Homo sapiens: one gene and its partners. The protein of the gene in region 1 interacts with the protein of each later gene in a pairwise test. Each region holds a gene or a part of one and is shown on either strand. Other genes may lie near its edges. The genes, in order: BAG3, PRDM6 and PTPN21.

Region 1 (3,167 bases):
GACCCTGTCCCCCACAAAAATCTATATATCTATATGGCTGTAGTTTATAGTCACAGGAAAACCTGTGCAGCCAGAGGTTAGCACAGAGGCGCTGTGTCATTGCTGAATGTTAGGCTACAGCACAGCTATCCTGAAGCAAAATTGTTCTGGAGTTAACCATTTAGAGCATCTTGGCTAATCCTAAAAAAATACATTGGTCTGGGCAGAAACTACTAGGCTGTCACGGTTTTAAAAAAAGAAGATCGTATCTTTTCTAAAACAGGAGACAAGAAGATCACACCGTGAGCAGACTGTCTGCACAGTGTAAGGAAGAAGGACCAGAGGCAGCGACTCCAAGGCTGCAACACCTGAGAGCTGGAGTCACTCAGGACTCTGCTCTGAGTCAGCCTAGTTCAGCAGTCAGCATGAGTTTTTGCTATTTTTTTCCTTCTTTCCTTCCTTCCTTCCCTCCTTCCCTCCCCCTCCCTTCCCCCCTTCCCCTTCCCCCCTTCCCTGCTTCCTTCCCCCTTCCCCCTTCCCTCCTTCCTTCCTGCCCCCTTCCCCCTTGCCCCCTTCTCCCCTTCCTTCCTTCCTTCCTTCCCCCCTTCCTTCCTTCCTTCCTCCCTCCCTCCCTTCCTTCTTTGAGACAGGATCTCGCTCTGTCACTCAGGCTGGAGTGCAATGACATAATCGTGGCTCACTACAGCCTTGAATTCCTGGGCTCAAGCGATTCTTCCGCCTCAGCCTTCTGAGTAGCTGGGACTACGAGTGCAAGCTCCCACACCTGGCTAATTTTTAAAGATTTTTTGTAGGGTTGGGGTCTTACTATATTGCCCAGGTTAGCTATTTTCATTTTTGAAAATTTTATTGGGTTTCTTTTCATTGCCATTAAGAATACCATCTACAGAGAAATTCAGTGAGAGGTAATAGACAAATAGCCTGGGGTGATCAATGGAAGCCTGACTAATGATTGGGTTACATACATGATTAATACCATGTTTTTATTTTGTAACAGCCATTGATTGACTTTGAAAATCTTTTATACTATTAAACTTTTTTTAAAAAGCCATTTCTCAGTTTTCTTTCTAATCTGTACTAGCTACAAACAATTTCTGTGACTTTCAGTCAGTTATTAAAAATATATTTTTGTGTCCTTTTTTCAGCAGCCCATGACCCATCGAGAAACTGCACCTGTTTCCCAGCCTGAAAACAAACCAGAAAGTAAGCCAGGCCCAGTTGGACCAGAACTCCCTCCTGGACACATCCCAATTCAAGTGATCCGCAAAGAGGTGGATTCTAAACCTGTTTCCCAGAAGCCCCCACCTCCCTCTGAGAAGGTAGAGGTGAAAGTTCCCCCTGCTCCAGTTCCTTGTCCTCCTCCCAGCCCTGGCCCTTCTGCTGTCCCCTCTTCCCCCAAGAGTGTGGCTACAGAAGAGAGGGCAGCCCCCAGCACTGCCCCTGCAGAAGCTACACCTCCAAAACCAGGAGAAGCCGAGGCTCCCCCAAAACATCCAGGAGTGCTGAAAGTGGAAGCCATCCTGGAGAAGGTACAGGGGCTGGAGCAGGCTGTAGACAACTTTGAAGGCAAGAAGACTGACAAAAAGTACCTGATGATCGAAGAGTATTTGACCAAAGAGCTGCTGGCCCTGGATTCAGTGGACCCCGAGGGACGAGCCGATGTGCGTCAGGCCAGGAGAGACGGTGTCAGGAAGGTTCAGACCATCTTGGAAAAACTTGAACAGAAAGCCATTGATGTCCCAGGTCAAGTCCAGGTCTATGAACTCCAGCCCAGCAACCTTGAAGCAGATCAGCCACTGCAGGCAATCATGGAGATGGGTGCCGTGGCAGCAGACAAGGGCAAGAAAAATGCTGGAAATGCAGAAGATCCCCACACAGAAACCCAGCAGCCAGAAGCCACAGCAGCAGCGACTTCAAACCCCAGCAGCATGACAGACACCCCTGGTAACCCAGCAGCACCGTAGCCTCTGCCCTGTAAAAATCAGACTCGGAACCGATGTGTGCTTTAGGGAATTTTAAGTTGCATGCATTTCAGAGACTTTAAGTCAGTTGGTTTTTATTAGCTGCTTGGTATGCAGTAACTTGGGTGGAGGCAAAACACTAATAAAAGGGCTAAAAAGGAAAATGATGCTTTTCTTCTATATTCTTACTCTGTACAAATAAAGAAGTTGCTTGTTGTTTGAGAAGTTTAACCCCGTTGCTTGTTGTTCTGCAGCCCTGTCTACTTGGGCACCCCCACCACCTGTTAGCTGTGGTTGTGCACTGTCTTTTGTAGCTCTGGACTGGAGGGGTAGATGGGGAGTCAATTACCCATCACATAAATATGAAACATTTATCAGAAATGTTGCCATTTTAATGAGATGATTTTCTTCATCTCATAATTAAAATACCTGACTTTAGAGAGAGTAAAATGTGCCAGGAGCCATAGGAATATCTGTATGTTGGATGACTTTAATGCTACATTTTAAAAAAAGAAAATAAAGTAATAATATAACTCAAAATGGTTTTTGTGGTTTCTAAATCTTTGAAAGCAGTGGCATCATGGAGATTGTCTGTCCCTGGTTTCAGTCAGAATAAATGACAGGTGCATTTAACAAGCCTGCTTTGGGTTTTGTGACGTCTCCAATAGCCCGGCTCAAGAGAGAATTGTCTTGGTCACCTTTCAGTCTCAGATTGCAACAGGAACCTGGGAAGACTCAGGGCTGTGAACTCCGGTAATGGGAACATGCCTGCTGCATCCGTTCGGACCGACCCAGCCAACAGCCAAGGTGCCAGTTAGGTAGCATGTCTGCCCACCTGTCCTCAGGCCTCACCAAGAAGCTGAGATTGTCCAAAAGTGCCCAGAGGGCCTGGCGCAATGGCTCACACCTGTTATCCCAGCACTTTGGGAGGCCAAGGCAGGAGGATCCCTTGAGGCCAGGAGTTTGAGACCAGCCTGGGCAACATAGCAAGACCCTGTCTCTACAAAAAACAAATCAGCCAGGTGGTGGCATGCGTCTTCAGTCCCAAGCTACCAGGGATGCTGAGACGTGAAGATAGTTTAAGTCCAAGAGATGAGGCTGCCGTGAGCTGTGATCCCGCCACTGCACTCCAACCTGGGCAACAGAGTTGAGACCCTGTCTCTAAAAATTAAAAAAGGAAGCGCACAGGGAAGCCAGCTCCCACTATTG
Region 2 (3,600 bases), on another chromosome or scaffold:
GGTAGGCAGAAGATGCACTTGGCACCTTACCGAACGGTATTTGAATCCGTCTCCATTACTCATTAATGGCGTGACCTTAGGCAACCCATCTAAACTTTCCGAACCTCAGCGGTCCCCATCTACAATATGGGGGTTAATGATAATGCCTTCTCCGCATGTAGGTGGATTAAATGGACATAAAGCGCCTACCCCCGCCCGGCACGTCCAAAACTCTCATTAACAGGTCAGCTAATCTTATTACGAGAGGAACCCTCCCTCCTCCGCTTCCCAGAGTGTGGGCGGCATGAGGCCACGGAAGCAGCTGCTGCAACTAGCATTTCAAAATCCAGAGACTTTCTAATGGTGGCAGGGGGTGAAAGGGTAGGGGGGAGGCAGGGTTGGGACAGGTAGAGGTAGGTTCTTGGGGACTTCCAGTCTTGGGGACCAAGCGCTTGGAACTAGCTGGGTTTGGGCAGAAACAAGAAGGCAAATGACGGGACCGCCGCCGGAGTCCGGACTTCCATCCCTGGAGTTCACTGTCTCTCCCAGGGAACAGAGGAGTGTCCTGGTTTCTCAGCAATGAACCAGGAGAGTGTGAGAAAGAGCATTTGTTTCTTCTCCCGTGGCCCGACAAGCCACTCTTCGGCAGTTCTGCGAGCAGATTAATTGAAACGGGCCTGGAACTTCATCCTCTCCTCCCGATGGAGTTGCTGGAGGTCTGCGGACACTGCCTGGTTAGCCTCCGGGACCACAGCGCCGTGGGCTTTCCCTCGTGGTGTCTGCCTTAAACTTGGGTGCTATCAATCTATCCAACAATGACGGATGACCTTGTCATAACGACGCCAGTCAAAACATTTTCGGTCTAACTCTCTTCCAACCAACATCGAAGCATCCTGAATGAGACCCGGATGAAGTCTGAACAGCACGTTTCCCAGGTTCAGAAAACTTGAGTGGTGGGAAGAGAAAAAGAAACAAGCAGAAATCAGGAAAGAATGGCTATTAATTGCTCAGATTGGCAAGTGCTAAATAAGTTAGGTTGTTTGGAAAAAGATAAATGCCGTTTCTTCTCTTTACGGTATGGCCAGAACCCCGGCGATGGGAAAGTACCTCCTGAGTCGGTCAATTTCACACACCCTGCCTGTGCCCTCTACCATCTACTACCGAAAATGCCAGGAAGAGCTGGGGGGCAAGTGCCTCCTTCGTGGGTGCGAGACTGCATCGAAGGGCTGCCCTGGCACAAAGTCTGGGGAGAGGACATGGTGGAGGTGGGGCTGCACTCCCACCCTGCCCCTCTAACACCAGGTTTTGGGTAGAGAAACCTATGCGTGACCTCCTGCGGCAGCCGCAGGCAGCTGACCGCAAACAGCCTCGCCCGTGTCCCGGAGCAGTTGTGCCACCAGACGTAACACTGGATACTTGTCTCCGGGCCCCAAGAAGGAGAGGGAAAGAGCCCTCCAGAAGACAACCCGAGAAGGGGTCAGCAGAGCGCTGGGTGGAGTGCAGACTCCATTGCAGCCGCCTCCCAGCCCCACGGCCAAGCTTGAGTCCCTCCAGGACCAGCTGCTCTCGGTCTCAGGACCCTCGGTCCTACGCCTCCCTGCACCGACAAGCCTCCCTCCTGGGCTGCAGACAGAGGGTTTCACTGCAGCGCGCAACCCGTCCCGCTCCGCCCCCAACTTTTCTCCCCGGAGGATTTATGTTAGAGGTTGCGTGGCGGGCGAGTGGACTCTGGCACCCAGAAGCACTTCAGGAAAAACTGAGCCGGGCAAAAGCGCAAACCCGGTCCTGGCGGCGCGGGCTTGCTCCAGCGCGGACACCACAGCGTGTGCGGAGATGCATTCCCGTTGCCGCATTTCCACTGCTTTCAAGATCAGGGCACTGAGCTGGGACCCAGAAAAGACATATCATGGGCAGAAAGAGACAACAGGCTAGCGGCAGACGTCACGCCAAAAAAACAGGGGATGGGAGGGCGGAGGAGTTTGTGCGGGAAAGGCGCTCTGGCGATGTGGGTCGGGCCGAATTAGAACTTCCTTCTTCCCTCTCCCCTCCCCTTCTTCTGGCCTGCCTCCCCTCCCCCCTCCGTTCTCTCTCTCTCTCTCTCTCTCTCTCTCTCTCTCTCTCTCTCTCTCTCTCACACACACACACACACACACACACACACACACACACACACACACACACACACACACACACACACTCACTCTATTTTGTGCTGTCGTAAAACCCACGTGTCCAGCCGGGAAGCTGCCAGAGCGTGGAACCAAGGAGCCAGGACGCGGCAGCGGCCAAGCGCAGCAGCCCACGGCGGTTGAGTCGGGCGCCCAGGTCCGTCCGCACTCTCGCGCCCTCCGCGGGCCTCCCAATTTTCTCGCTTGCAGGTCGGGAGGTTTCCGGGCGGCACAATCTCTAGGACTCTCCTCCCGCGCTGCTCAGGGGCATGTAGCGCACGCAGGGCGCACACTCTCGCGCACCCGCACGCTCACCGAGACACCCGCACGCACCCACCGGCAGCACCGAGTTTTCAGGTAAGGTGAGGCTGGTCTGGGACTTAAGAGTCTAGGGCTTGGTAGATAGGAAGGTTGGTGGTCCTAGGTTGGGGGCGGGCGGCGAGACTGTTCTGCCTCCTGGCGCCTGAGGCCAACGCGGCTCGGGCGCTGCGCCACGCCGGCTCGGGTCGGCTCCGGGCGCTGGCTGAGGGCGGGGGCTGCGTCCTGCAGCCGAGTTCTACGGGGCAGCGCCCTCCTGTCGGGCCCCAGCATTGCTGGATGGGAGCTGGACGCTGCGATCGGGGAGGCAGAGCAGGGTGCACACAGCTCCCTCTGTGCGGCGCCGCAGCTTCGGAGTAAACTTTGCGCCCAAGCGGAGTTGGGAAGAGGGAGCCGCGGAACCGGGCGGCCGCCGGCTGAACCACCGGCTCGGGCACTTTCTCCAGGGTCCCAGTGGCCCTCTTCCCGGCCCCTTTCGCCCAGCTCACGCGCCCCCTCTTCCCTGCCCTCTGCCCCCAGTTCGAGGCGCCGGACATGCTGAAGCCCGGAGACCCCGGCGGTTCGGCCTTCCTCAAAGTGGACCCAGCCTACCTGCAGCACTGGCAGCAACTCTTCCCTCACGGAGGCGCAGGCCCGCTCAAGGGCAGCGGCGCCGCGGGTCTCCTGAGCGCGCCGCAGCCTCTTCAGCCGCCGCCGCCGCCCCCGCCCCCGGAGCGCGCTGAGCCTCCGCCGGACAGCCTGCGCCCGCGGCCCGCCTCTCTCTCCTCCGCCTCGTCCACGCCGGCTTCCTCTTCCACCTCCGCCTCCTCCGCCTCCTCCTGCGCTGCTGCGGCCGCTGCCGCCGCGCTGGCTGGTCTCTCGGCCCTGCCGGTGTCGCAGCTGCCGGTGTTCGCGCCTCTAGCCGCCGCTGCCGTCGCCGCCGAGCCGCTGCCCCCCAAGGAACTGTGCCTCGGCGCCACCTCCGGCCCCGGGCCCGTCAAGTGCGGTGGTGGTGGCGGCGGCGGCGGGGAGGGTCGCGGCGCCCCGCGCTTCCGCTGCAGCGCAGAGGAGCTGGACTATTACCTGTATGGCCAGCAGCGCATGGAGATCATCCCGCTCAACCAGCACACCAGCGACCCCAACAACCGTACGTAGC
Region 3 (3,827 bases), on another chromosome or scaffold:
GGAGTCCATTAAGAGTGATAAGAGAAGGAAGCCTGGTATTAGCAAGGAAATAAGAGAGAACTGAGAAACCAGATGCCAGGAGACCACCCTTGTTGCAATAATCCGGATGTAAAATGATGAGGGTTTGGATTTAGAATGTTCCAGGGGGAACAGAAAGGAAACAAAGAATTCATGAGACATTTCAAAGGAGGAAATACCAGGTCTTGATGACAGGCTGGAGATGATAATGGGAGAAGTCACACATGATTCCAGTTTTTCTACCTTGGGAAGCCAGCAAAGTGACTTCTTTTTAGATCTCTTTTCTTTGCTCACACACAAATTGACCCCCTCATAGAGTTCAGTTGAAATATCAATTACAAACAGAATTGATCTATTTTTTTTCCCTTAGAAACACAGGTAATCTTATTTGCCTTTAGCTAAACGACCCAAGATGCACCTTGCTGGGCTTTGCTCTTGGATAGCACTCATACCTCTATGACAATGCTCCCCACTTTGGCCTTGTACTGCGTGTGTGGTGTGCAGGTGCGTTTATCACCCACTAAACCAAAAGTCCGTGTTGTGCAGGGACCACGTCTCATGCAGAGTTAAGTATTCAAAAGTTTTTGTTAATTGTTTAAGAAAATGAGATTTACATGAAACAATACTTTAAAAAGCTTTCCAGAAACAACAGCATTAAAACAAAATCACTGAAATTAAAATTTACATAAATTAAAAGGTTCTGTGTTCCACATGCCAAGAAAAGATCTTACACTATTGTAATAGTGGTAGGGTCACACAGTTTTATTCCTCAGCTTAAGTGCTGCAATACAGTAATAATGCAGTACAAGAATACTGTATAATAAACCTTAAACGAAACACTTCATATATACTTTACACAAGTTATTGGATATTGCTTAGTATTTATTTCCCCCACCCCTGCTGTGCAAAGATATTAATATCCCTCTTTTATAGGAGAGGAAACAGGTAAAGAGAAGTTAAGAAACTTGCACAAGGTCATCCAGCTAGTAAATGTTGGAGCTGGGATTTGACAACTTTGTCAAGTCTCCATCCTTAACAGTTCTGCTCTATATTGCATAAGCAGACAGCTCCCTTTTGGGGACTGACAGGTTATTTGAGGCATATGAACCATTTTTGGTGGGGGGGCTTTCCCACCCAGTACTGGAAGTGTCTAGTTATATGGGGCATAACCTTAGGAGCAAGCAGGAAAAGAAGAAATGTATTCCAATAGTGTTCAGAAATATACCAGAGTAAACGAATAACCATCAATAACAGCATTTTACAGCCTACCTAATAACACAGGAATAAAACCCTTTATCTGGAACCTAAATAATACCCCCTCCACTCATTTTATTAAAAGCCTTGCTTTATTTGGAAACTCTTAAAATAAGTGGTCATACGATTAAAAAAAGCAGCGGCGCGCCCCCTCCCCGGCGGCCGGGCGCAGCTGTCCGCGCCTCCCCCGCGCGGCTGCCCGCATTCCAACTCTCTGAGGTCACGGGCCGCCGCCGCCTCCCCGGATCCGCCCGCCCGGCTCAGGGGGAGGGACGCCTGGGCCCGGCCGCCCCGCTGCTCCGGCCGCGCGTCCCGCGTCGGTCCGACGGTCTGTCCGTCCTCCTGCCACCCCCCGCCCCCACGGGGCTTCTTTGTGCGGCGCTCCTCGCCGGCCGGTCCCACCTCCAGGCCTCGCCCCTCGCCGTCGCCACCGCCGGACTCTGCCCAGGGGAATGGTCTGCGAGCCGGGTTTTTGGAGACAGGAAGTGAGGCGTGCGAGCCCCATGAGCGCGCCGCGGCCCGGGCTGGCGTGCGGGTGCGGCTGCGGCGGCCGCGCGGCGGGGCCCCGGGAGGCGGGTCGCTGAGCGGGGCGCGCGGCCCCGAGGATGCGGGAGCGGGAGCGGGAGCAGGTGAGGGCGCGGTCCCCGGCCGGCGGGAGGGGCGGGCGGCTGGCCCGAGCGGTGGGGTGTGTCCACTCGCCCGGACCCCGGAGCGCGCCCGCGGCCCCGGAATCCCGGAGAATGGGGCGCGGCGGCCAGACCCGTAGCGGGAGCGTAACAAAGAGAAAAGTCTTGTTTTTCAGGTTCGCTCTCATATACTTGAGTAATTTCTAAAAGGAGTCTTGAACTTCTATTCCGAACGCCCTGGCCGATTGTTGCGGGTTAATTCTGGATCAGGGTTTTAAATGTGTTAGGCATATTTGTGCCTCTCAGAATATATAAACGTGAAATTCGCCAGATAACTTTGGCGAGAAGGGGCGCAGGGAAGGACTGTTTGGTAACGCCTGGGTTTGTTTTTGGAGTAGAGTATTTACTCTGGAAACAAGAATTCTTGGATCTGCAAATTCCGACTTGTGATTTCTGCAAATCCTGATTAGATTGGCCGCTCTTGGCATGCTCGTCCTATTTTCTTTTTTGCTGAGAAAGCCTTATACTAATAGCGTATGCTCACAAACACATTCAGAACATTCGTGTGCTCCAAGTGACAACTGCTGTATGCCTAATAGTTGCTGACAGTTTATTTATTTTTTTAAGTTTGGGACACGACAGTAATTTTACTCTGAATATAGTCCGTTTCGTTTCTAGGGCATTTTATTCTGGAGCATCTACGCACAGATGTTTTCTCCGTGAGAAACATGGGTTTAATGCTATAGCTATAGATATTACTCTAAAAATGTCACATACTCTCTCCTTTTAGTGCTTATTTTATTTTAAAGCAACTTTGGCAAAATTACATGTGGTAAGGACCTTAATAGGAAAGGGGAAACGCTGTAAGATTGAGAGGTAAAGTGTATTTGAGGAACTTTTGGAAAGGGTTGTAGAGAGGGAAAATTAAAATGAATTCACAAATAGTTCAGACTGCCTTTTGTAAACTTGTACTGAAGCAGAATCTAGTATGTATCTGTTTACTTACCACAAAACGGAAAGATTTTGTAGAGAAAAAATTATATCCTAGTTTTCCTTTAATAGCTATTTATAAATTATGTTTACTTTAGTAAATTATAATTCCAGACCCAATCACTTTCATATTATTGCATATTATTTTATACCTGAAACAGACCTCCCCAAAGAACTCTTAAATTTCTACTCATCTTGGTTTTATTATCTTCAGACATTCATAATTGTATTACACCATTTGGCAACAAATACTGCATATTACTGAAAATTAAGATGTATAAATCATTGATAAATTTGTAAATTATTAAACAAAATCATTGTTTTAACATAGTGGGTTTTATATAAATAAGCAAAAAGCAAGCCATTCTTATGGATAGATCTTGGGGGGATGCACCATGTACACACACACTGCAACTTTTTCAATTTCATCTACCAAAATAAGAGATAATTTTGACTTTTCCTTTATCCCTGATGCAGTAATACATTTCAAGTCTGAGGGACAATTGAAAGTTTTACTGAGTTTGCTTAATCAGAGCTTAAGTTAATAATTAAGTTATACAGTGTAGTATCTATTGCTTTCAAGGCATAGTTCTATGTAGTGAAAAGACTACCATATTTGAATGGCACCTAATACAAATATTTATCTTTCCTCTACACATATGCAATATCTTGTCTGTTCATCTACACTACTTAATCCGCCCGGTTTCCAGTTACCATAATTTTTATGTAAAATTGAAACCCACCATCTGATCTCATGAAAGGGTGTTTAGTATGCATATTTATAATCCTTAAATATTTACTCTTGGTTTATCAATTTTCTAGTTAAAAGCTTATTATTTAAAGTTGTCATTTGCTAATTTTTTTCCATCTTGCTTTACTTATTTAGTTTATACCCCTGAAACAGCAAAGAGCATTGAAAACTACTGGAAGTGGAAACCA

What was found.
Region 2: the proteins of BAG3 (region 1) and PRDM6 interact in binary tests that used the Homo sapiens proteins (3 or more experiments, as listed by UniProt).
Region 3: the proteins of BAG3 (region 1) and PTPN21 interact in binary tests that used the Homo sapiens proteins (3 or more experiments, as listed by UniProt).

What each region holds. Positions count from the first base shown.
Region 1 is NC_000010.11:119,675,322-119,678,488, forward strand, and holds the end of BAG3 (BAG family molecular chaperone regulator 3), read left to right. Parts: intron 1-1,142; coding exon 1,143-1,961; 3' UTR 1,962-2,498; downstream 2,499-3,167. UniProt on the Homo sapiens protein: Co-chaperone and adapter protein that connects different classes of molecular chaperones including heat shock proteins 70 (HSP70s), e.g. HSPA1A/HSP70 or HSPA8/HSC70, and small heat shock proteins (sHSPs), e.g. HSPB8.
Region 2 is NC_000005.10:123,087,016-123,090,615, forward strand, and holds the start of PRDM6 (putative histone-lysine N-methyltransferase PRDM6), read left to right. Parts: upstream 1-2,225; 5' UTR 2,226-2,504; intron 2,505-2,984; 5' UTR 2,985-2,999; coding exon 3,000-3,591; intron 3,592-3,600. UniProt on the Homo sapiens protein: Putative histone methyltransferase that acts as a transcriptional repressor of smooth muscle gene expression.
Region 3 is NC_000014.9:88,552,725-88,556,551, reverse strand, and holds the start of PTPN21 (tyrosine-protein phosphatase non-receptor type 21), read left to right. Parts: upstream 1-1,856; 5' UTR 1,857-1,901; intron 1,902-3,827. Other genes in the region: proline-rich protein 2-like, read left to right, coding at 1,492-1,856.